2 separate regions of the Homo sapiens genome follow, and region 2 is reported to be linked to region 1. The links are microRNA targets in miRTarBase. Many come from high-throughput screens and were not tested one by one. Region 1 holds a microRNA gene; the other region holds the end of a gene's coding sequence.
Evidence for each region. Region 1 holds the annotated microRNA hsa-miR-4762-5p (CCAAAUCUUGAUCAGAAGCCU, at 1,596-1,616, shown strand). A microRNA usually pairs through its seed, bases 2 to 8, with sites in the 3' UTR of a target mRNA and lowers its output. Matches are read on the target gene's strand: a 7mer-m8 pairs with bases 2 to 8, a 7mer-A1 pairs with bases 2 to 7 and ends in A, and an 8mer does both.

Region 2: the mRNA of HOXB2 is a reported target of hsa-miR-4762-5p. The part of its 3' UTR that is shown has no 7-base or 8-base seed match.

What each region holds. Positions count from the first base shown.
Region 1 is chr22:45,758,937-45,762,088 of GRCh38, forward strand. It overlaps MIR4762 (microRNA 4762), which reads left to right and starts at 1,588; the gene lies at 1,588-1,662. The region is part of intron 9 of ATXN10 (ataxin 10); the gene reads left to right.
Region 2 is chr17:48,540,504-48,543,503 of GRCh38, forward strand. It overlaps HOXB2 (homeobox B2), which reads right to left. Exons shown (of 2, transcript NM_002145.4): 2 at 2,152-3,000. The coding sequence ends at 2,565. Among named protein-coding and RNA genes, the nearest start is that of HOXB-AS1, 2.3 kb to the right of the region's middle. RefSeq lists a silencer at 2,732-3,000 and an enhancer at 2,829-3,000.

The DNA.
Region 1 (3,152 bases):
GAGTCATACCTCTCCAAAAAAGAAGAGATTTAAATCTTTAGAGTTAACAAGATTTAATGTAATTTAGACATTATTCTTACTTAGAAGTACCATTCTTATTTAAAGGCAGTATATCTCATATCTTTAAAGATAACTTTAGAAACTTACTGCCAGAGAAACAAATATTGATTAAGAGCACACTGTGTGCCAAGCATTATGCGAGGTGCTGGAGAGAAGGAAGGGGAAGAAAAGGTCCTCACCCTCAAGTAACTTGAAGCTTAGAGGGACAATGATAAATAGTAAAAGATTCTAGAGTCCGGGCATGGTGGTTCACACCTGTAATCCCAACACTTTGGGAGGCTGAGGTGGGCGGATCACCTGAGGTCAGGAGTTCAAGACCAGCCTGGCTAACATGGTGAAACCCTGTCTCTACTAAAAATACAAAAAGTAGCCGGGCGTGGTGGCGCATGCCTGTAATCCCAGCTACTCGGGAGGCTGAGGCGGGAGAATCACCTGAACTCGGGAGGCAGAGGTTGCAGTGAGCCGAGATAGCATCACTGCACTCCAGCCTGGGCAGAGCAAGACTCCGTGTCAAACAAACAAACAAAAAAGATTCTAGAGCAGTCTGATCAGGGTGAGGGTTCCGTACTCTTCTTGTGCCATGAAGCAGGAGGAAAGGCCTCCTGAGGGAGCTGAGGCTGCACGAGGATGAGCAAGGTTTCATAATGTCCTCCAGAGGCCAGTTTACCAAGCTGCATCAGCTCCTCCCTCCCAGCCACCCTGCCCTTCATAAAGCTCTAGTTTTGTAGGGGATGGGGTGGGATGGGGTCACACCTCAGCTGCCGGCATGAGCTAAGGGACCATATAACAGTCAGCACTGTCCATCGCTTGCTTCTCTCTCTTTCTAATTTACATACAGCTAAACACAGATTTTTAATGAATGGCTGATAAGTTTTGACAGATGTCTGCACCTGTGTAATTATCACCCCAGTCAAGGTACAGAGAGCACCTCTATCCCCTCAGAAAGTTTTTTCCATGCTGGCTGTTGTGTGCCAGTGTGCCAGGAGAGCATGGGGCAGGGGAATGATGGCCCTAAGAAAGGAAGGAGGAACAGGGGGAATCTTGAATTACATTCTTTCCCCACGTGGAGATAGATTTGTGCTAATTCCACAACGTGGAACATCCTCCTTCGTTTGCTTAGACTTCCCTGGGAGCAGTAGCCCATGTACTGGTGGCCTAGCTCAACTGTGGCTTGGTTCTGGGCCTGTAAAGCCATCTTTCCCACCTACAGATGACATTCCCTATCTTCATCATGTGCTTTTAGTCAGGTTTCCTGCGGGCCAGATGCATCTGAGAGTGTGCCCTCATTAATATGGGACTCTGTGTATGTCCAGCACATGTGGGGTTTATTCACGTACCAGTGATTATTATTCAACATCGTTCCCTTTAGTGCAGCAAGCACTTTCTGAGTGCTTACCATGTGCCACTTTCTGTGAACCTCTGCAGTTCAACAGTGGAGTCAGAGGCAGTCCTTGTTCTCAAGTAGCTCATGATCTACTGTGGGAGACAGATGGCTAGATGATAGGGTGTAGTCATATCCCATTATTTCTGATACCCCAAATCTTGATCAGAAGCCTTGATCAGAAGCTAGGAAGGCTTCTGATCAAGATTTGTGGTGTCAAGAATAACAACGATTACAGCAATAGTAGTTGCTTATTGAGTGTGTCCTGTGTCCTAGGCACAGTTCTGAGTATTCGTCTCTTACCTCATTTAATGATGATACCTCTCCCATGTTGCAGATGAGGAGACTGAGGGCCAGAATGGTTCAGTAGTGTACCCAAGGCCACACAGCTGTTAAGTGGCATGAGAAAGAAAGAAACTTTCATTTTAAGCCTCTTAGATTTTTGTGGATTGTTTGTTACTGCAGCACGAACCAGCCCATCCTCACTGATAAGAGCCCCAGTGTGCGGAGTGGATTCCTGAGCCAGTTAAAAGGTTGCTACAGCAGTGGAGGCCTGGTTGGAGGGTGGTGATAAGCCTGGAAATAAAAGGACATATGTGAGAGACAGTAATTTGATAAAGAGTAATGAAAGAGGAAGCTTTCTTTCAGGTAGCTTATTCTGTTTCATTATTGTTGTTTTCCTTTTGGGAAAGAAGTTGAATTTTCATTGTTGGCTTATGTTTTCAAGGGTGACCTCAGTATTTTATTTTATTTTATTTTTTTGAGACGGAGTCTTGCTCTGTCGCCAGGTTGGAATGCAGTGGCGTGATTTCGGCTCACTGCAACCTCCACCTCCCAGGTTCAGGCGATTCCCCAGCCTCAGCCTCCCAAGTAGCTGGGACTTTAATGTTTTTATATTGGTGATTTTGAGCAGAGACTGTATTACCATCTAAAACACTACAAGCCTAGCATGTAAGCTCCATGTCTGTTTGCTCCTCATTCTCTCCAGGGCCCCTGGCACAGTTCCGGGCCCACAGTGAGTGCTCTGTAAACTTTTAGGGATGAACAAATGAATATTTTTAAATCTGTTCATTGTTTTCACAGTTAAACTTTTCTAAGCACTTATGTAATACTGTGTTTACTTAATTTTCATTTCTCACCAACCTTTATGGAAGACTAGGTGATAACTGGTTAAATTGTAATACAGTATCATAGGTATAATCTCGAAAAGGTAAAAATCAAATGTAACGAAGCATTATAATCCAGTGACTGGAACATTTTATGCAAGCCTTTGCTCTTTATTTATCTATTTTTTTATCATACACTTCTTCCCAGTTTTTGCTTAGTCCTTGTTAGCAGTTACATTAAAATCTGTTTTAAGTTCCACCTCAGGGAATATCAAAAGTTGGTTACTTTTCTAAATGGGCCTTTAATTAAAATTTTAAAAAATTAGACCATTGTGTTAGATTTTTTAAAATGTTGGCTAAAACAGAAAAGGTTGATTTCAGTGCAGTTGGGCTGAAACTATACTTAAATAGATTAAAGTATAATCTGGCTTTTAAAAAAAACACATCTGACTGGGATGAAGTAGTTGTGGTCTTAACTGAAGCAGGTGAATGGACCATATTCGCCTTTAAGAGCCTTCTGACTCCCAGGTTTTCTGATTTTTAAAAACTTCCTATTTAGTCATATGTTTTTACTTCACTTTATGGTTTAAGTGAGCCAACCAACA
Region 2 (3,000 bases), not on the chromosome of region 1:
ATCCTTGTGATATTCTTGATCTTTGTAACAACCTGCTATAGCTAGCTGCAAGAGCATTTTTAATTAGACCAAATTATCTAGTTTGACTGTCCATAGAAATCAAAGCCCCAGCTGAAATATCTGTTCATTTTGCTAGTGTAGAGATGGCTTGTGTGCTGTGATTTTTAAGATGTTAAACACTGCCTGTGGGCATATTTTATGGAGAAATAAACACACAGCCCAATGAGATGTATAGCGTAGTTTTAATATATTGTATATTCCCTTATTTATGGGGAAAATAAACACATAAGCCAATAAGCTGTGTATTACTACTTTAATATATTGAATTTATTTCATACCTATATATTTTATGAGGGAAAATAAGATACATGACATTATTATAACACATCTAATTGTTCTATATTTATTTATGAGAGAAATAAGTGCAATTTAACATGATGTAAGATTAATGCACGAGATGAATTCTATATTAAGACAGTTTAAGGGATTAAGTTCCAGCTAACTAAGAGGTGTGTACTTCCCACACTGAGGGACCCATTTTAAAATATGCAAAGGGCCTGTCTAGTCCTCTGTGTCACAACCTATGTTGGCTCCTGGCTTATCCTGACAATTGCTGCCTCTGGGTGACTGGTACTCTAAATCCCGGTCCTGTTGGTCCAGGGGAAAGTCTGGAGGCCCAGGAAATAAACTGCTTTTTGAGAAGGGCAGCATCTGCCGGGGAGATAGCCCCGTAGTGTCTGTTTCTGAGCGGGAGAAATATTAAAGAAACCTAAGGAGGATGGATGGCTTTCCGGGGACCTTTAAACCTCCACCTTCCCAGAACAAACCAGGAGGCAGATGGGGGAGATCGATCCTTGCTTCCCGCTTACCAGGTTTACAAGGAACCAGGCAGGGTGTGGTGGGGGATAGACAGGACATGGTGTTGATACGTGAAATGAAGTTGTTGGTCAAGACTGGTGGGTCTGCATTCAGAGAAAGCTCTGGCCTGGCTTCAAATCCCACAGCGAAGAATCAAAAGTCAGACTGGATGAGGCACACCCAGGCCCGCAGACCCGCCGCTCTCCTTCCCTTCCCACATCCACCCGGACTCTCCTTCCATCTCGCGTCCTCAGCGTCCGTTGGGCTCCACTTTAAAAATAAAAAAATCAAACTAACTAAAACGAAGGTGGGACCCCCCAGGCTCCCCTTCTTCCCTGGCCTCTGGAAAATCCAGCTGGGAGGACGCAGGGGCGGGGGCAGATCCCGGCTGGGCCGGCGCCTCCTGCAGCGGCTGTCATGGCGGCCACAGCTTCTTCCCTCGCCCCCCCCCCGGCCCGCCGCCCGGCCCCAGCGCCATTTTGAGCATCGTCTTTGCTTCCCTGTCTCCCTCCCGCTCTCCTCGCTCCTCCTTCTCTCCCCGCAGGTCCAGCGCCTCGCGACGCTGCCGGGCCACCCTGGGCTTCTCGCCCGGCTGCTGCTTGGATGGTCTCCCAAACCCCAGCAGCCCGAGTCCATGGGTGTCCCGGCAGCGCCACATTTCTCAGCTGGCCTCTTTTCTTGCCCACTGGGAAGCCAGTTACCATCCCTGGGTGCGGGACCCTGCTTCCCGAGAAAATCCCCGACCCCACTCCACTCCTTGGAGAGCCACCTACAGCTCCCAAAGAGGCCCGGCTCAAGCCCCAGGCCTCGCGTCCCTAGGCTTCTTGAGTTCGGAAAAAGGTCCTACACCGGCTTCGGTCATAAGAAGCAAAAGCCTAGGAAGCCCTTGGATTGTTCCCAATTCCAGTAAACTTCTGCCCCCGCCACGACCCTGAAGACTGTCCACAGGCTTCCTCTCCTTTCACCCTCCTCTGTTCGCTGTACACTCTCTCCCTCGACCTGCCCATCTCTATTTCCAAGCAGAGGCCCCAGAACCACCCGCTCAGGACCAAAGACCCTCTGCTGAGGGGCGGGGAGGTGACCCAGCTTCCTGCAAACTCCCGACTTTTGCCGGAGCCGTGGGCGAAGCGGCCATCAATCGGGTCACCTTTGTACCACCCGGACTTCGCCGGCCCTGGAGGCTTTGCTGCCATATGGGCCGCTGAACCTAATCAACTTCGCACAGGTCCTGGAGGGGTGAGGACCGGCCTTGGGGCCGCGGGGAAAGAGTTTAGGTCCCAACACAAACACTCGTTTTGGTATTATAAAGACATTTATTTAATCTATGAAAATAATGTACAATAAATACTTTCCCCTTTTCCTATTATTAAAGAATTTTAATAAATAATCTACAGTCTAAAACATAAAAAAGAGGAAAATAGGTCCCTCTAGTTATTTTTAAGAAAGTCCCCCTAGAGTTTAATTATTCCTGAGATTTCATTGGAAGGAGTCTACCAAACGGAATTTTTCTGTGTGAATTTTAAAAGATAACCGAGTGCCCAATATTTTAGAAGAAGAAGAAAGGGAGTGGATTAAACGCTAATTCAGTAATACCTGAATTTTAGCAAAACACATAAGTCTATGCGACTGAGGGTGGGAGAGGCTCGATTTTTCCAGTAGACGGCCAAGGAGCGCGGGGGTCGAAAGGACCGGGAGGAGGAAACAGGTTAGGGAAACTGCAGGTCGATGGCACAGAGCGTACTGGTGAAAAAATCCAGCTCTTCCTCGGAAAAAGGGACCGGGCTGTCGAGAGAACCCTGTAGGCTAGGGGAGAGGCCTCCGGATAGCTGGAGACAGGAGTCGGCCGCGAAGAAGTTGAGGTCGGGAAGGAAAGGTGAATCCTGGCGCCCCGAGAAGACGTCTTCTGGCAATGGCCCGGGCTCCAGCCCGCCGGCCCCGCGCAGCGCGCAGCCGGGACTCGACGCGCCTGCGCCCTCTAAGCGAACGGCTAAAGGCCGGGGGTCCGCGCTTAAGGCCCCCGGCACCACCTCCGGCGGGTGACAGCAGGCTTCCCACGCCGCCCGCGAGGCGGAGGGGCCGCCCGGGCTGGCCGCGGGTTCCTCGGCAGGGTCGCAGATGTCCTCCAGGGCTCCCGGGCAGGCA